Regions from separate parts of the Homo sapiens genome. Here region 1 is linked to region 2. Evidence: fine-mapped expression QTL. Tissue or cell type: whole blood. Region 2 holds a variant in brackets; the other region holds the start of a gene. All regions are shown on one strand. Distances are between the middles of the regions.

Region 1 (8,281 bases), 84 kb after region 2:
TATTACCTACCTTAAAAAAAGTGTTTCATTTTAAGGAGAAATGGATTTTTAAATGTTAAGTAAACAAATACATTTAAAGCTCCTCTTGCAAACTAGAAGTAGACTAGAAATTAAGATTTATTTGGTAGTAGAATTAATCATTTTATTTGAAAAATACAGTAAATATCTTAAGGTATTTACTCAAAACAGCTTTAAAGAACTATTTCAGAGTCTAGGAAAGTATCAACTATAACACTAATCCAACTGAAGAAAGGCAGCCCAACAATACTAATGTGACGGTAAGAATTTCTTCTATTAACTGTATCATATACCAGGTAATTTTTGAGTGAAATTCAAATTGTGAACTGACTCACTTTTTCCTCATACATACTTTTAAAGGTTTTCAAGGCCTGCTTAAATTTAAACATGCCATTTCCTCAGTAATAAGTGGTATTAACTTTTTTGAGCCACACTATTGTTCCCAACAACCGGGCTAAGTAGGAAGCAATAGAACTTGGAAAAATCTTGAACTGAGACAACTACTACAAGAATACAGCACTCACCCAAGCTAAAGAGAAAAAAAATGAGATAAATGTGCCTATTTTTGCATATATCCCTGAACAGCTACATCAATCAAAGCTAGGCTTACAGAAGACATACACTCCTCTGTCAATGGCAATAACTACCCGGAAGAATAAGCTTGTTAGGGATGATATGACTATCACATTTTGGGAGATAGGATCTTAGCTTCAAATACTGCCATTATACTCTCAGCACAGGAGTGTGCTGAATGCTATGGGATATATAAGAAAAAGAGAATATATATTTGTACTTACATAAACATGAAAAAAAACAGAATTTGTATGGCTCAGCAGATAAAAGTTAGGTACTGCAAAGATTAATATCCATGGTCCTTCCAGCTCTAAAATTCTCCTCTCACTACTACTAAATTAAAGAGCCTCTTCACCTTCCTCCCTCTAGAATAGCTCCAAAAATTTTTTATTTCCTTTTATACCCCTCACCTCCACTCAAGGATATATACTCCTTCTCTCTAATCAAAAGACCCCAAAGTATTTCCTTTATACGTTTCCCAAGCATTCAAAACTATTCTAATCTAGAATCTAGCTCCAGAGTCAATTGTAAGCATTTTCTCTTTCACCTCTTTTCAAAGGGACTCTATAAATAGCTGGAGTCACTACCATCTGAAAATCCCACATATATTTTCCCTTCAGCGTATCTGTCTAGTATCCTGCATGGGCCATTTACCCTCATTCACCTAGGATTAGTCAAATTCTATCCTAACTTCAAAAATCAACTTTATTTGCTCCATAAAGCCTTTCAAATCACATGAATCTTCGTATTATTCATTTCGCCCTATTACACTATCTTAAAAAAGTCTTGCTTTTGAGATATCTACTCGACTAGAGTTTAAATCCTTATAAACAAGATGTATATCTTATCTACCTTTATAACTGTCACACACAAAACAGACGTTTATAATTGCCACACACAAAACAGAGGCTATTCAAAAATTATGTTCAACAGATAAATTGTAACTGAAGGAAATCTCCCATTCAATCATTGCAACAGTCACTTCTGAAGGATTTCCAAAAGGTTCCACATTTCTCCACTAGGAGCCATTCACTTCACAATAATTAGATTTAATTTAAACTTAACAACTAAATAATTGAAAGCCTTCATTTTGGAGGAAGAAACTTTGGCCTAGGGATGGTAAATGATTTAATTCATTCAATTTGCATTTACTGAACATCTATATATGACGCCCACTATATATTGGATATACAATAATTGTTAAGATATCACCACTTCATTCAAAGAACACACTGTCCGGCTATTATATTAATTATAAAGAAAGCAAAAGAAGCCAAAAAGGAGAAGGCACCTAACTGAAATCTCTCTTCATGGAACAAACCAAAGTGTGCTATCTTCCATCAGCATGGATTCCAAAAAAAACGGGTTACACAATATTTCACTTCTCATAGGAAGTAAAAAACTGACTTTTCTAGTCTTTATTCCACAAAGTTGAAAATGCAGTTGAAACGTGTTATATCACTACGTGGGGTATACTCACAGAGGAAAATAATTTAGACAAGATAAGGGTTTTATTAACCTAATCTGTGAAAAGCGGTGGCATTCCAGTAAAACGTTTTCGTTTTAGAGTTGGTAGTGATAAAACTACCAACCAAGTCATCTACTGGATATTCATTGAACTACATGAACAAATTAGGGCTGTTATGAACACATCCCAGTCATCAAGATAGTAACAACTTTTAATCCCATAAAAGGTCAACACACAAAACCCGTTTATATCCTTCCCAATTCTGAAATTTTTAATGTAATAAAGACTTAGGTCTACTAAGGCCACTTGTAAAATAGTAGTCTACCTTTTTAAATTACTTCAAAATCCTTCAATGAAACTGAAACTTGTTTTGTAGACTGTAACTATATATACTTTATTGTACACTCATGTATCATTCATTTGGTATTGATATACCTAAAATGTAAGGCTGTTACAGCAGCAATACCATCACCAGCGAACATACAATAAAAGCTGCATGCGCATACAACAGCAGGGAGCGTATTTCAATCCTGTATAAACATTAGGTTCAACAAAATGAATACACAAATATGTACATATACGATGATAGTGCTGTATGCAACTAAGAAACATCCTAAAACACTATAACCTAGAGTTATTTGTTAGGCAAATATGGTATCAGGTCGTTTCATTTTAAGTTCTCCATTTCCGAGTGGAAAACCGTGAAATCGTACTACCTCATCTATGAGCAATTTATTGACATGTATAGCATTCATAGCATAGCATTCACTGTAGTATTTCTCTCCTAATTCATTGCAGTATTTCACAAATCGTTTCTCAAACTCAAAAGTCCCAGTTTTGCAGGCATAAAGGCCCTACGAATACAGCCTATGACAATGAAGGCCTGCCAATCTTCACAAAGAGGGCAGGTTATTATTAACATCACCATCTTTTGTGAAAGCGTGCCCGGCCCTGAAGAACCACCTTCGATTTTGCACAAGGTGGTGGCCGCGCCTGTGCGACAATCAGACCTGGTTCATTCCAGCCGCCTTCGTCTAGGTTCGCCTGGTTCTGAAGTCTTCCGGGACGACCTCAAACCCCCACAGTGACCAGGATGCCGACAAAGATTCCCTCGGGAATGGCACGAGTCTTGGGGAAGAGCTAAGCAGACCCTAAGGGCCCAGGCCGGGCCGGACGCCAAGGCGAGGCCCGGGACGCCCTTGGAGGTTAATCCTCTAGATACTAAGGGCTGCGGGGCGCTTGGGGGCGGCACTGAGGTAGGGCGTGGGAGAAGACCGGGGTGACCTTTCCTCCGGGGGTTCCCAGGTCCGAGACGGTCCTTAAAGGACCTCAGAAGGATACGACAACCATCCCATGAGGCCCCACGGGAACCAGCTACTCACCCAGGGGCAGAAACAGCAAGAGCAAGTGCCCTCAGCCGGCCTCACACAGGAAGGAAACGCAACCTGGGAGAGAACGCTTCCGGCGGGAGGCGCGGCGCACTCCCTCCCACGGAGCATGCGCGACCCGCGGTCGCCGGCGCGGAGGGGGCGTGCTCCCAGGCTTAGAAACAGTGAGGGAGAGCAAATTCGCGCACCTGATGTCTGCTTAAGCTACCTGCTAGACTGAGACTTTCTGCGAAGCCGGCGTGTCTGCGAGCAGCACTCGCTAAGGCTCTGCGTTTAACAGACACTACCTTTGGGAAGGCGCTTATCACAAAAAGTCCCTGCCCTTCTCGCGGGCTCGGGGCGCAACCCTGACAAATCGGGCAGCCTTCTTGAGAGTGCAGAAATGCTCTGCGTACCCAGCAAATACATTCTCTCCTTCCCACCACTCTGTGCAAACCCTCACGCCGCGGCTTTGTGTCTGTACTTTAGCCAAAACGCAGAAGCTTATGGCCACCCTCCACTCCTCACCCCTCATCCCTCACCACCTGCCTTTCAATTCTCGGGTGAGCTCACCCTTCTCCCCCATCTCTGTGCTGACAAACACCTCGGGGTGGCGCCTGACAATCTTTCCGCGAAAAGATTTAGCAGCCCACGCCACCAGACTCGGTAGTTAGGACGGAATAGGGCATCTGGTAACAGATTTTGCATTTTGGTGATTTCCCTTTTTCTTTCACCCCTTTTCCTTTCCAGAACGAGCGACGTGACACAAGAGGTCCCAAGGGAGCAAACCTGAAAGCCAGAGCCTCCTGAATACACAAACTGCCGGTGGGCCAGATGACATTAGACACTCCTGAGATACGAGAAGCATCACTTCCTTCAGACAGAGTCGGTGAGACTATGATGTAATGAGAGTTCTCCCTGTGTTCCTCAGGAAGGCAGCTTGTGCCTTTCTACTTGAGGCATCATCTTTGATGGCTAAAGAATTCTGCAGCTTGGCCAGCGCGGTGGCTTACGCCTGTAATCCCAACACTTTGGGAGGCCGAAGCGAGAGGATCACTTGAGGTCAGGAATTCGAGACCAGCCTGGACAACATAATGAGAAATCGTCTCTACAAAAAAAAAAAAAAAAAAAAAAAAAAAACCACCTAAAAATTAGCTGGATTTGGTGGCGCATGTCTGTAGTCCCAGCTACTTGGGAGGCTGAGGTGGGAGAATCGCTTGAGCGTGGGAGATCACGGCTGCAGTGATCAAGCCACTCCACTCCAGCCTGGGCGACAGAGCAAGCCCCTGTCTCAATAATAATAACAATTTTGCAGCCTGATTGTTAACGAATGTTACTAGTTACAAACTTGTAATAATGTGGTGAAGATAATACCTAGTTAATGTCTGCTGGGGTGGGGCAATAAGCTTCTATGTGCTTTACATGCATAACCTAAATATCTCCCCCAAAATCCTCTAAAATAGCTATCATTTTCTCCGTTTTTACAAATGAGCAAATTTTAAAGCTTAAACCTTAGAGAAACTTTTCTAAGTTCATATACTTGGGAAATAAAGGCAACAATTTCATTGGAACATAGGTCTGTCTAATTCATACCTTGTACTTTACGTTTTCTCTTTGAGATGGTAATTTAATACCAGCTAAACTTTAAAATCTAGTTGAAAGTAAGACCATGAAATGCCAAAATCACAAGGCTTTAAAGGATGGGATGAAAGGGATGCATGAATGTTGAAAACTATGATTAAGTTCATGGACAGGAATCAGAATGGAATTGAATACACCCGTGCCTGTTTAGTATTTAAGGCTTTATATACGTGCATGCCTACATTCCTAATTTAAAAAAAAAATGGATGTGAAGCTAGGTTTGGGATTACTAGACTATTTAGAGAGATAGACCTTTGAGAAGAACGGAAAGATTATGAGACGAGGACAATGTTCATTAAAAACAAACAACAACAACAACAACAAAAAACAGAGGCTATCAGTGCTCAGCAGACTTTCAAGAGACTCTCCACTGGGTCCTTGGATGATCCCAAGCTGAATCATTGCTTGGGAGGCTCATGGACACATGGTTTGGCAGGGCTAAAAGGGGGAGGGTCACTAAAGGCAAGAAACAGGTTTTGTGCCCCAATAGGGTAATTATATCCACTGGTAAGGAAAATGAGCTGAGAAATTCAAGATAGTAATGGATTTTCATTCATTTACTGAGTGAAATTGGTTCAACTAAGAGCCTCACCTGCCCTCTTCTAAGGACCAGGGTGACCAGCCTACCCAGTTTCAGTTTGCATGAGACTAAAAGGTTTGCTGGGATATAAAACTGGCTGACAAAGTCTCAGGCAAATCATGAGTCACTCTACTAGAGACATCCTAAATGAATCCTACAATGAAATGGAGTTCCCAGTATGGTTACATCTAGTCTCAATTCATCTGCCTAATATTTGAGGGATGATTGCACAGGAAGGGAAACTGTTGAATAAAGTCACGAGGCTGACCATAAAGAGTCTACAAGCTCGAAAAGTGCTACACCTCACTCCCTTTCCAGTGGTTCAGCCACTGGAAACCAAATGCCTACACCTATATGTTTTGGACCTAATATTTTCATTTAGCAAATCCGTAAGAAACCTTCCATGTCTGGGCCTAAGACATCAAGTACATTCATTTTCAGCAATCATCAAATCAATGAGATTCTTCCAGAATACAGCAGAGTGAACATATGCTTTTCATTCCAGGATAGCTTTATATAATCCCTGGCAACACAAAATACCATATTTGGCCCACAGTAGGGGCTCAATAAATAATTCAATATATATAATATTAATCAGGAAATTAGAGCAGACTGTAGACTTTCTGGGCCTTTGCTCTTTGTTAGAATCAAGATATTAAAAAGAATTATTACTTTATTCTAGAAAGTTTTTGGGTTTTGTGTGTGTGTGTTTTCTGTATCAGTAACTCTTAAAATAGTTATGGCAGTTCTCCTCCAAGGTGCTGAATTTTCCACTTTTGTTATTAAATGGAGTGTAGCTAGTTTGCTCTGCAATCAAGGTTAATGCACTAGACACCTGGTGGGAAGAAAGGATTCCTTAAATTAGGTGTTCTTGGCTGGGCGCAGTGGCTCACGCTTGTAATCCCAGCACTTTGGGAGGCCGAGGCAGGTGGATCACCTGAGGTGAGGAGTTCAAGACCAGCCTGGCCAACATGGTGAAACCTTGTTTCTACTAAAAAAAAATACAAAAATTAGCTGGGTGTGGTGGCGGGCACCTGTAATCCCAGTTACTTGGGAGGCTGAGGCAGGAGAATCACTTGAATCCAGGAGGCAGAGGTTGCAGTGAGCCAAGATCATGCCACTGCACTCCAGCCTGGACAACAGAGTGAGATTCCATCTCAAAAAAAAAAATTAGGTGTTCTCAAATTTCACTGTATATAGATTAACTTGGACAACTTGGCAAAATGCAGATTCCTGGCTCCCAGTCTTCAGAGACTCCCGTTCAACTACTGTAGGTTTTGGCCTAGAAATCTGCATTTTACAGTAAGCATCTGGGCTCTCCGCCATGTGAGGATGCAGGAAGGTGTCTGTCTGCAAGCCAGGAAGGATACCCTCACCAGACAGAGTATATGCCAGTATATTGGATTTCCCACCCTCCAGAACTGGGAGAAATAAATTTCTGTTGTTTAAGCCTATCAGTAAATCAGTAAACAAACATCTGAGCTGATTGGGATATAGGTAGTTTTGGACTCTATTTTGAGAAATTCTGCCCTAGTGAATGAAGACTGTAGATGTATTTTTGCAAAAATCTCTACTACCTTAGCCTAAAAGGCCTATCTGGTCAGCTGAACCATTAACCCAGCTGGAATACATCAAGAAATCAAGGCAAGGAAGCCTCATGATGAGATTCAGGATAGAACGCCTTTGGAAGGAAAAACAAATCTGAAATCTTTGAATAAGTAAACACAGTAAACCTGACTCTATTCATTGCTCATTAGAAGTAATTCACTTGACAATGATTTAGAAAGAATAGAACTTCAACAAATAGGTAAAATTATATAACAGTAATTATGCCAGTATAATTCACTTGGTTACCTTTGTTCTTTTAAAAATATCATAAAAGGATAATTTCAATCATTATTTTTTAATTTTTTAAATCATGTCTTCTGAATCATATGAACCATTATTTTGACAAGGTAAATTAAGTAGAATGGATGGAGAAAGAAAAGTAAAGCAAGAATATGAAGCTATACCTGAAGCTGTACTTGAAGCTCCAATAGAAAGATAATATAGAACACAATGGAGTACTATTCAGCCATTTAAAAAAATGAGATCCTGTCATTTGCAACAACATGGACAGAACTGTAGGACATTATGTTGAGTGAAATAAGCCAGGCACAGAAAGACAAACTTTGCATGTTCTCACTCATTTGTGGGAGCTAAAAATTAAAACAGTTGAACTCATGGAGATAGAGGGTAGAATGATGGTTATCAGAGGCTGGGAAGAATAGTGGTGGGGGGTAGGAGGGAAGTGAGAATGGTAATGGGTACAAAAATACAGTTAGATAGAAAAAATAAGATCTAGTATTTGACAACACAGCAAGGTGACTACAGTCAACAGTAATTTATTGTGCATTTTTAAATAACTAAAAGAGTATAATTGGAATGTCTGTAACAAAGAAATGATAAATGCTTGAGGTAATGGATACCTCATTTACCCTGATGTGATTATAACACATTGTATGCCTGTATCAGCATATATCATGTAATCCATAGATACACACACCTACTATGTACCCATAAACTTTTTTAAAAAATGAAAAAAAAGCTAAACTAAAAAATAAAAATAAGAAAGAATAAGATAGAATCAAGGAA
Region 2 (8,000 bases):
AAGCCATCTCCATAACATAAAAGTACAAGGTGATGCAGCAAGTGCTGATGTAGGAGCTGCAGCAAGTTACCCAGAAGATCTAGCTAAGATCATTGATGTAGGTGGCTACACTAACAACAGATTTTCAGTGTAGAAGAAACAGCCTTCTATTGGAAGAAGATGCCACCTAGGATTTTCAGAGCTAAAGAAGAGAAGTCAATGCCTGGCTTCAAAGCTTCAAAGGACAGGCTAACTCTCCTGTTAGGAGCTAGTATAGCTGGTGACTTTAAGTTGAAGCCAGTGCTCATTGGCCATTCTGAAAATCCTAGGGTCCTTAAGGATTATGCTGAATTTATTCTTCCTGTGCTCTATAAATGGAAAAACAAAGCCTGGATGATAGCACATCTGTTTACAGCGTGGTTTACTGAATATTTTAAGCCCACTATTGAGACCGACTGCTCAAAAAAAGATTCATTTCAAAATATCACTGCTAATTGACAGTGCACCTAGTTACCCAAGAACTCTGAGGAAGATGTATAAGGAGATTAATTTGTTTTCATGCATAACACCATCCATTCTGCAGCCCACGGATCAAAGAGTAATTTCAACTTTCAGGTCTTATTGTTTAAGAAATACATTTTGTAAGGGTATAGCTGCTCTAGATGGTGATTCCTCAGATGAATGTGGGCAAAGTAAACTGAAAACCTTCTGGAAGGGATTCACCATTCTGGATGCCATCAAGAACATTTGCAATTCGTGGGAAGAGGTTAAATATCAACACTAATGGGAGTTTGGAAGAAGTTGATTTCATCCTTCATGGATGACTTTGAGGGGTTCAAGACTTCAGTAGAGGAAGTAACTGCAGACGTGGTGGAAATAGCAAGAGAACTAGAATTAGAAGTGGAGCCTGAAGAAGTAACTGAATTGTTGCAATCTCATGATAGAATTTGAAAGGATGAGGAGTTGCTTCCTATGAATGAGCAAATAAATCGTTTTTTTGAGATAGAATCTACTCCTGGTGAAGATTCTCTTGAAATGGCAACAAAGTATTCAGAATATTATGTAAGCTTAGTTGATAAAGCAGTGGCAGCCTGTGAGAGGATTGACTCCAATTTTGAAGGAAGTTCTACCATGCGTAAAATGCTATCAAACAGCATCTCATGCTACAGAGAAATCTTTCATGAAAGAAAGAGTCAATTGATATGACCAACTTCATTGTTGTCTTATTTTAATAAATTGCCACAGCCACCCCAGACTTTAGCAACCATCACCCTGATTTGTCAGCAGCTATTAACACAAGACTCTCCACCAGGAGAATGATTACAACTCTCTGAAGGCTCAGAGGATCATTAACATTTTTAGCAAAAAGGTATTTTTAAATTAAGATAGGCTGGGCGCGGTGGCTCACCCTGTAATCCCAACACTTTGGGAGGCCGATTGTTTCAGCCCAGGAGTTTGAGATCAGCCTTGGCAACATGGCGAAACCCTCTCCCTGCTAAAAATACAAAAAATTAGCTGGGCATAGTGGTGCACACCTGTAGTACCAGCTACTCAGGAGGCTGAGGTGGGAGGATCACCTGAGCCTGGGAAGTCGAGGCTGCAGTGAGCTGTGATTGTATCAGTGCACTCCAACCTGGGCTATAGGAGTGAGACCCTTTCTCAAAAAAAAAAAAAGTTTAGATAATATTACATTTTAAAGACATAATGCCATTGCACACTTCATAGACTACAGTATAGTGTAAACATAACTTTTAAAATGCACTGGGAAACCAAAAAATTTGTGTGACTCCGTTTATTACAATATTCACTTTATTGCAGTAGTCTGGAACTGAACCTGCAATGTTTCTCAGGTATGCCTGTATTTTTTTCATCATGCCTTACAATGCATGCTGGCAGATGGAACTCAGAATTTTAGAATTTCTTAGAAGCCAAGGAGAATGGTGGCATGACTTGTGTCTTTGACAATATTTTCAGTGATTCTATACCTTTAGGTTATTAGGGGGACTCGATAAACATTCCCAGGGAGCTAATGGTGAGAAATGAGCCTTGGATAACCAGAGAGAGAAAGCCACTCACCCTGCAGACATTTTGTGCAAAAGTGAGAGAGATTGATGAAGATTGTTGAAGATTGTCGCATGTACCAAACACACAAGTTTTATTGGCAAAATAATTCTTTTTGCTGTGTCCTTTTTTAGCACTCTGAAACCCACAAAAACACTTTAACACAGGTTTTTAGAACCCCACAGCTTCCAAAAGTAATTACTTCTGCGGGAATCCTGGGCCTTATTCTATTTCCATGTGGCACTGGGAGTGATATTTGCAAGGAAAATAGAGTCACTAGGAAATGGTCTGCCTTTGTTACAGAGCTTATCTCCAACGTCATTCTTGACCTTCCATTCAAGGCATCCAGCCCTCTCTTTGGCATCACTAAGTATAGAACCGTGTGACATGCGCTCAAATGAAATCATCAGGAGGAGCAGGTGAAACTTGTAAAACTAATGCTTGCTGGGGCTTTGTTGCCTTTCGTCCATGGCTCCCAGAGATTTGTCAAGTAGTAATTATTTTTCACAATGCTCTTGGTGAGGAAAGTAAGAATCATTACTCCTGTTTTGCACTCTACATTTTCTTGTACAAACCAAGAGAACAGAATATGACTTCTCAATGAAAGATGGGAATGAGAGTTTATAGCCTTTAGCTCCACAATGAAAACCATATGGTTAGTTATATCAACAGAATCACCTGAGGAGCTTTACAAATCACCCATGACTGGATCCCATCCTCACAGATTCTCATTTAATTGGCTTTGAGTCAGATCTGATTATTGAGGGGTGGGTAGTTAAAGCTCCCCGTGATTCTAATGGGCTGTGAAGGTTGAGAACTATTGAGTTAGATAATTGTTTGGAGCTATTTTCTTTAGGGCCCCACCTGCATATATCCTGCAAGTACCTCAAACTCAACATGTTTAACCTCCCCCCAAGCCTGTTCCCCCTACTATGTCTCCTATCTTAGTGACAGCTTCACCATCCAAATGGTGGCCTGTGACCAAAACCTGGATGCCATTCTTGCTTCTCTCTTCTCCCCTTGTCCATTCAGTCACCACGTCCTGCCAAATGTAGCTTTCAGTTATTGCTTGAATTCATTCACTCCTCTTCTATTCCATCTTGGGTCAGGACATTTCAATTCTTTCCTCTCTCTTGTCTTACTCCCCCATAATCTCCCACTCTTTAGCTAGAGTGAATTATTCAACTTTTCTTTGGAAACCCCTTTATTAAGATACAATTTACCGCAAAGCCTCTTGCCACCACCAGCCAACACACTCCCTCGTCCAGTCCTTCCAGAGCTGGTCATTCGATCATGCGCTCTCTGACTTTTGCACATACTCATCCTTCAACCTGGCACACTGTTTCTTCCACCTCTGCCTCCGGACCTTATTACCTCCTTTCAGAAGTCAGCACTGACTCCTATGACACATGAGCATAACTGAGTGCCCCTTCTTTGTCCTCCCAGAGTAATTTG[G/T]ACTTGCCCCTTTCATACCTGTGACAGGTGAAGCTGAAATGTCAATATGGGGGCCACTGATGAGAGGCAGTGGGTGCAGTGATGAGAAGAATCTGGTTTGCAGGAGTCTGAGATTTGGGTCTTGGCTTTGGTAAGAAAGCTCTGTGCACTTGAACTCTGCCACTTCCCCTCTGTAAAACTGCCTTCTCTTCTGAAAATGAGGACATTAAATCTACATTACCTCCAGGTTCCTTAAAGCCCCAGATTCTGTGACTATGACTGATAGCACAGAAATGAATGTGTGTGTATATATATATATATATATATATATATATATATATATATATATGTATGTATTCTCCTCTTGTAGGCATTAGTTTTTCTTCTCTTTGATTCTGTTCTCTGCACCCTTTCATCATGACCTTATCTTGCTGAATCCACCATTTCCTTCCTTCTTTCTGGTTTCTTTCCCTTCTCTCTGCTCCCTTTTTGCATTCTTTTTCACCTTCCCACCCTCAGCTGCTCCTCCCTTTCCAATTAGTGCATTCCCTCATCTCCAGATTGTTTCTTTTGAGTCTTCCTCTCCTTGGCCTCTTTGAGCCTATTTATCATAGCTTTCTTAGTCTTTACGCTAGTGGTTGAGCTTATCCTCTCCTTTATGCATTCTTGTGTGTAATTTTGAGCCCAATTCCCTATTTGCTACTTCACTGGGCTCCTGAAGCCTGCTCCCCATTCCTTTTGGCGCATCTAGTTCTGCAAATCCTCTAGCTGTGGCCCCCCTGCTGTCTTTGGCAGGAAGCTTGGAAGGGGGTGGGGACTTCTAGGCCACAAAGCCCTGGGAAATTAAGCAGAGCCTCTGGATCTCCCTTCCTGACAGCTGGACACAGTTCTGGCGATAATTGGACCACCTTAGGGATAGAGATGCCCCTTGTCCCTCCCCATCCCAGAAATGCCAAACACATAGTTTTAACATCTCTCTTCAAACAGACAGGTTTTTAGGCTGGATGGTGGATGAATTCGGTTTGATGCCCCCTTCACCAATAGATAGAGCAATATACGGTGGACCCCTAGTGTCCAGAATAAATTACTGCATCCTCAGGGGTTTGGAGGTCAGTTCTCAAAATTGTGCTGTGTCCAACTCTAAGCAATGAGGAGAAAGTAGATGTATAGGTATGGATATTTGAAAATGTTCTTGTTGAATTATCTGACTGAGCACAGAGTTTAGAAAAGAGGCCATGAAAACACAACCGAAAACCTTGCATAATTGCCTTCTGTCTACCGCAGGGTTTCTCAGCCTCAGCACTGTTGACATATTGGACTAGATAATTCTTCACTGAGAGGGCAGTTCTGTGCAATGTAGGATATTTAGTAGCATCCCTAGCCTCTGTTCACCAGATGCCAATAGCACTTCAGTCATCACAATCAAAATTATCTTCAGATATTGTCAAATGTCACCAGGAGTGACTAAATCAGCCTCTGTTTAGAGCCACTGCTCTATCCCAATCCCCCACTCCCTGAACCTCTCTGGAATGCAGGTCATGGTAAACCCCAATATCTGGCCATAATGGGGACTGTGAACCAGGTCCACCATCACTATCTTCGTGTCTTCCTACTAGGTGTTTCAAATCAGCTTTCTCTCACTCACTCTTGCCTCCCTCTTCTCTGCTAACATTTCAGGTAACCAAGTTGTATTTGGAAAGTGGTGAAAGGTACTTGGGGTTTGATTAGGGGGAGGATTGTAAAACCATTACATGTTTGACTGAGGAATGAGATTGGCTGTAAGTATTTGTGTCAGTGACTAGGAGAGACACAGCTCTGTAATTGATTATACTTCAATACCAGATGGAAAATATTTAAACTTATAGAAAAAAAACAAAGGTTGCCATGTTTTTCTTTTCTTTCTTTCTTTTTTTTTTTTTTTTTTTTTTGAGACAGAGTCTTACTCTGTTGCCCAGGCTGGAGTGCAGTGGCGAGACCCCGGCTCACTGCAACCTCCGCCTCCCAGGTTCAAGTGATTCTCCTGCCTCAACCTCCTGAGTAGCTGGGATTACAGGTGCCCGCCACCAGGCCTGGCTATTTTTTATATTTTTAGTAGAGACAGGGTTTCACCATATTGGCCAGGCTGGTCTTGAACTCCTGACTTCATGATCCACCCACCTCAGCCTCTCAAAGTACTGGGATTACAGGAGTGAGCCACCATGCCCGACCATGTTTTTCTTTTTCATTAGTTTCACCATTCTTCAACCCTGGCTTACCCCTAACATTTGTGGGGCCCAGAGCAAGAATACAAATGGAGAGCCATACATCATATTTAAAAGTTACATGTGTAACTAACAAACTGCTAAATAAAATGTGTTTGATCCTTCTACTTTGACAACTATGCCTTAATCACAAACTGGAAAGCCAGGTTCAAATATAGACTTCTGGGTTCTGCATCAGAATATGGTAGTGTGTGGAGAGTTGGCCCTTGGCCTTTCACCAACTCTCCCTTCTCCTTCTATGCTTGGCCTCTTCCTATGCTATGTGGGTCCTCTGGATTGATTTGTGGGCACCCCAGGCTGCATGGCTGAGCTCTCTCCACAACCTCTGCAGACCCTCCCTGCTTGGCCCGCCCTCAGAAGTAGGGCTGCTCTGAGTGTGTGGTCCACCCTGGAAAGACAGGTTGGGAGATGAAGCTCTCCCAGGCCTAGCAGCAAGCTCAGAGTTGATTGGGCAGGAAATTCTAGAGTTCTGGGTACCCTGATTATGATCAAAAGAGTAGGTGATGACTCTGGGTGGGTCTTCCCACCAAGGGTCTCCTTGCCTTTATGAGATAGACACAACCAAAGGGGGCCAGAGTTGGGCCATCTAATGTGTGGGACACTATGAAGATGGTTCTTCTGCAGGTCTCCAGGTGCTCTTCACACCCACCCTTTCCTGAAGTCACATTTTCAGCTGAGACTGGGAATAGAAAAGTGATTGCTTCTAACCTCAGTGAAATAAATCCTCAGTGAGTTAAAAAACGGTGGTTCCTCTAAAAAAAAAAATTAAGGTAAAAAACAGAACATAAAAATTATCATCTTAACCTTCTTGTAAGTGTGCAACTCAGTAATGTTAAGCATATTCACATTGTTGTGAACCAAATCTCCAGAACTTTGTCATCTTGCAAAATGGAAACTCTACACCCATTAAACAACTCCCGCGGTCAGGCATGGTGGCTCACGCTTGTAATCCCAACACTTTGGAAGGCCGAAGTTGGAGGATTGCTTGAGCCCAGGAGTTGAGACCTATCTGGTTATCATAGTGAGAACCTGTCTCTACAAAAAAAAAATTTTAAAATTAGCCAGGTGTGGTGGCATGCTTGTAGTCCCAGCTACTTGGGAGGTTGAGGTGGGAGAACTGCATAAGCCCCGGAGGTAGAGGCTGCAGTGAGCTACTGCATGCCAGCCTGGTGACAGAGTGAGACCTGCCTCAAACAAAAACAAAAACAACTCCCCTCTTCTTCTTTCCTCCAGCTCCTGGTAACTACCATCCTTCCTCCAGCCCGTGGTAACTACCATTGCACTCTCTGTTTCTATGAATTCGACTAGAATTCATAGAAATTTAGATACCTCATATAAGTGGAATCATGTAATATTTGCTTTTTTGTGACTGGCTTATTTCACTTAGCCTAATGTCCTCAAGGTTCAGCCATGTTATAGCATGTGACAGGATTTCCTTCCTTTTAAAGGATGAATGATCTTCCCTTGTATGTGTATACCACATTTTATTTACCCATTCATCCATCTATGCACATTTGGGTTGCTTCCACCTCTTGGCTATTTGAATAGTGCTGCTGTGAACATGAGGATACAAATATTTCTTCAAGACTCTTTCATTTCCTTTGAATATACACCCATAAGTAGGATTGCTGGATCATATGGTAGTTCCATTTTTAATTCACTGAGGAACCTCCATACTGTTTTCCATAGTGGTTGCACCTTTTACAATCCCACTAACAGTGTACAAGGGTTCCAATTTTTATTTTTCTACATCCTCACCAACACCAACACTTGTTTTTTTTCTTTTCTGTGTGTGTGTATGTGTGTGTGTGTGTGTGTGTGTCTCTGTCACCCAGGCTGAAGTGCAGTGACGCAATCATGGCTCACTGCAGCCTCAACCTTCCCAGGCTCAGGTGATCCTCCCACCTCAGCCTGCTGAGTAGCTGGGACTACAGGCATGCACCACCATGCCAGATTAATTTTTATATTTTATGAAGAGATGGGGTTTTACCATGTTGCCCAGGCTGGTCTCAAACTCTGGGCTTAAGCAATCCACCCAACTTGGCTCATGCTGGGATTACAGGCGTGAGCCACTGTGCCCAGCCATTTTCTGTTTTTTAATAGTGGCCATCCTAATGGATGGGAGATGATATCTCATTGTAGTTTTGATTTGCATTTCTCATAATTAATGATGCTGAGCATCTTACATGCTTTTGGCCATTTGTAGATCATCTCAAGTTATGTCTATTCAAGTCCTTTGCCTATTTCTTAATTGGGTTAATTTTT

Evidence for each region. PIP is the estimated chance that this variant, and not a neighbour inherited with it, causes the effect.
Region 1: ATAD1 starts here. The variant in region 2 is fine-mapped to the expression of ATAD1 in whole blood (TOPMed, PIP 0.93).

What each region holds. Positions count from the first base shown.
Region 1 is chr10:87,814,726-87,823,006 of GRCh38, forward strand. ATAD1 (ATPase family AAA domain containing 1) reads right to left here and starts at 3,501. Exons shown (of 10, transcript NM_001321967.2): 1 at 3,442-3,501. It also overlaps the pseudogene CFL1P1. RefSeq lists a silencer at 3,599-3,648.
Region 2 is chr10:87,730,884-87,738,883 of GRCh38, forward strand. All of the region lies in intron 9 of PAPSS2 (3'-phosphoadenosine 5'-phosphosulfate synthase 2), which reads left to right. Among named protein-coding and RNA genes, the nearest start is that of PAPSS2, 75 kb to the left of the region's middle. The variant G/T (reference allele first, on the strand shown) is at 3,496.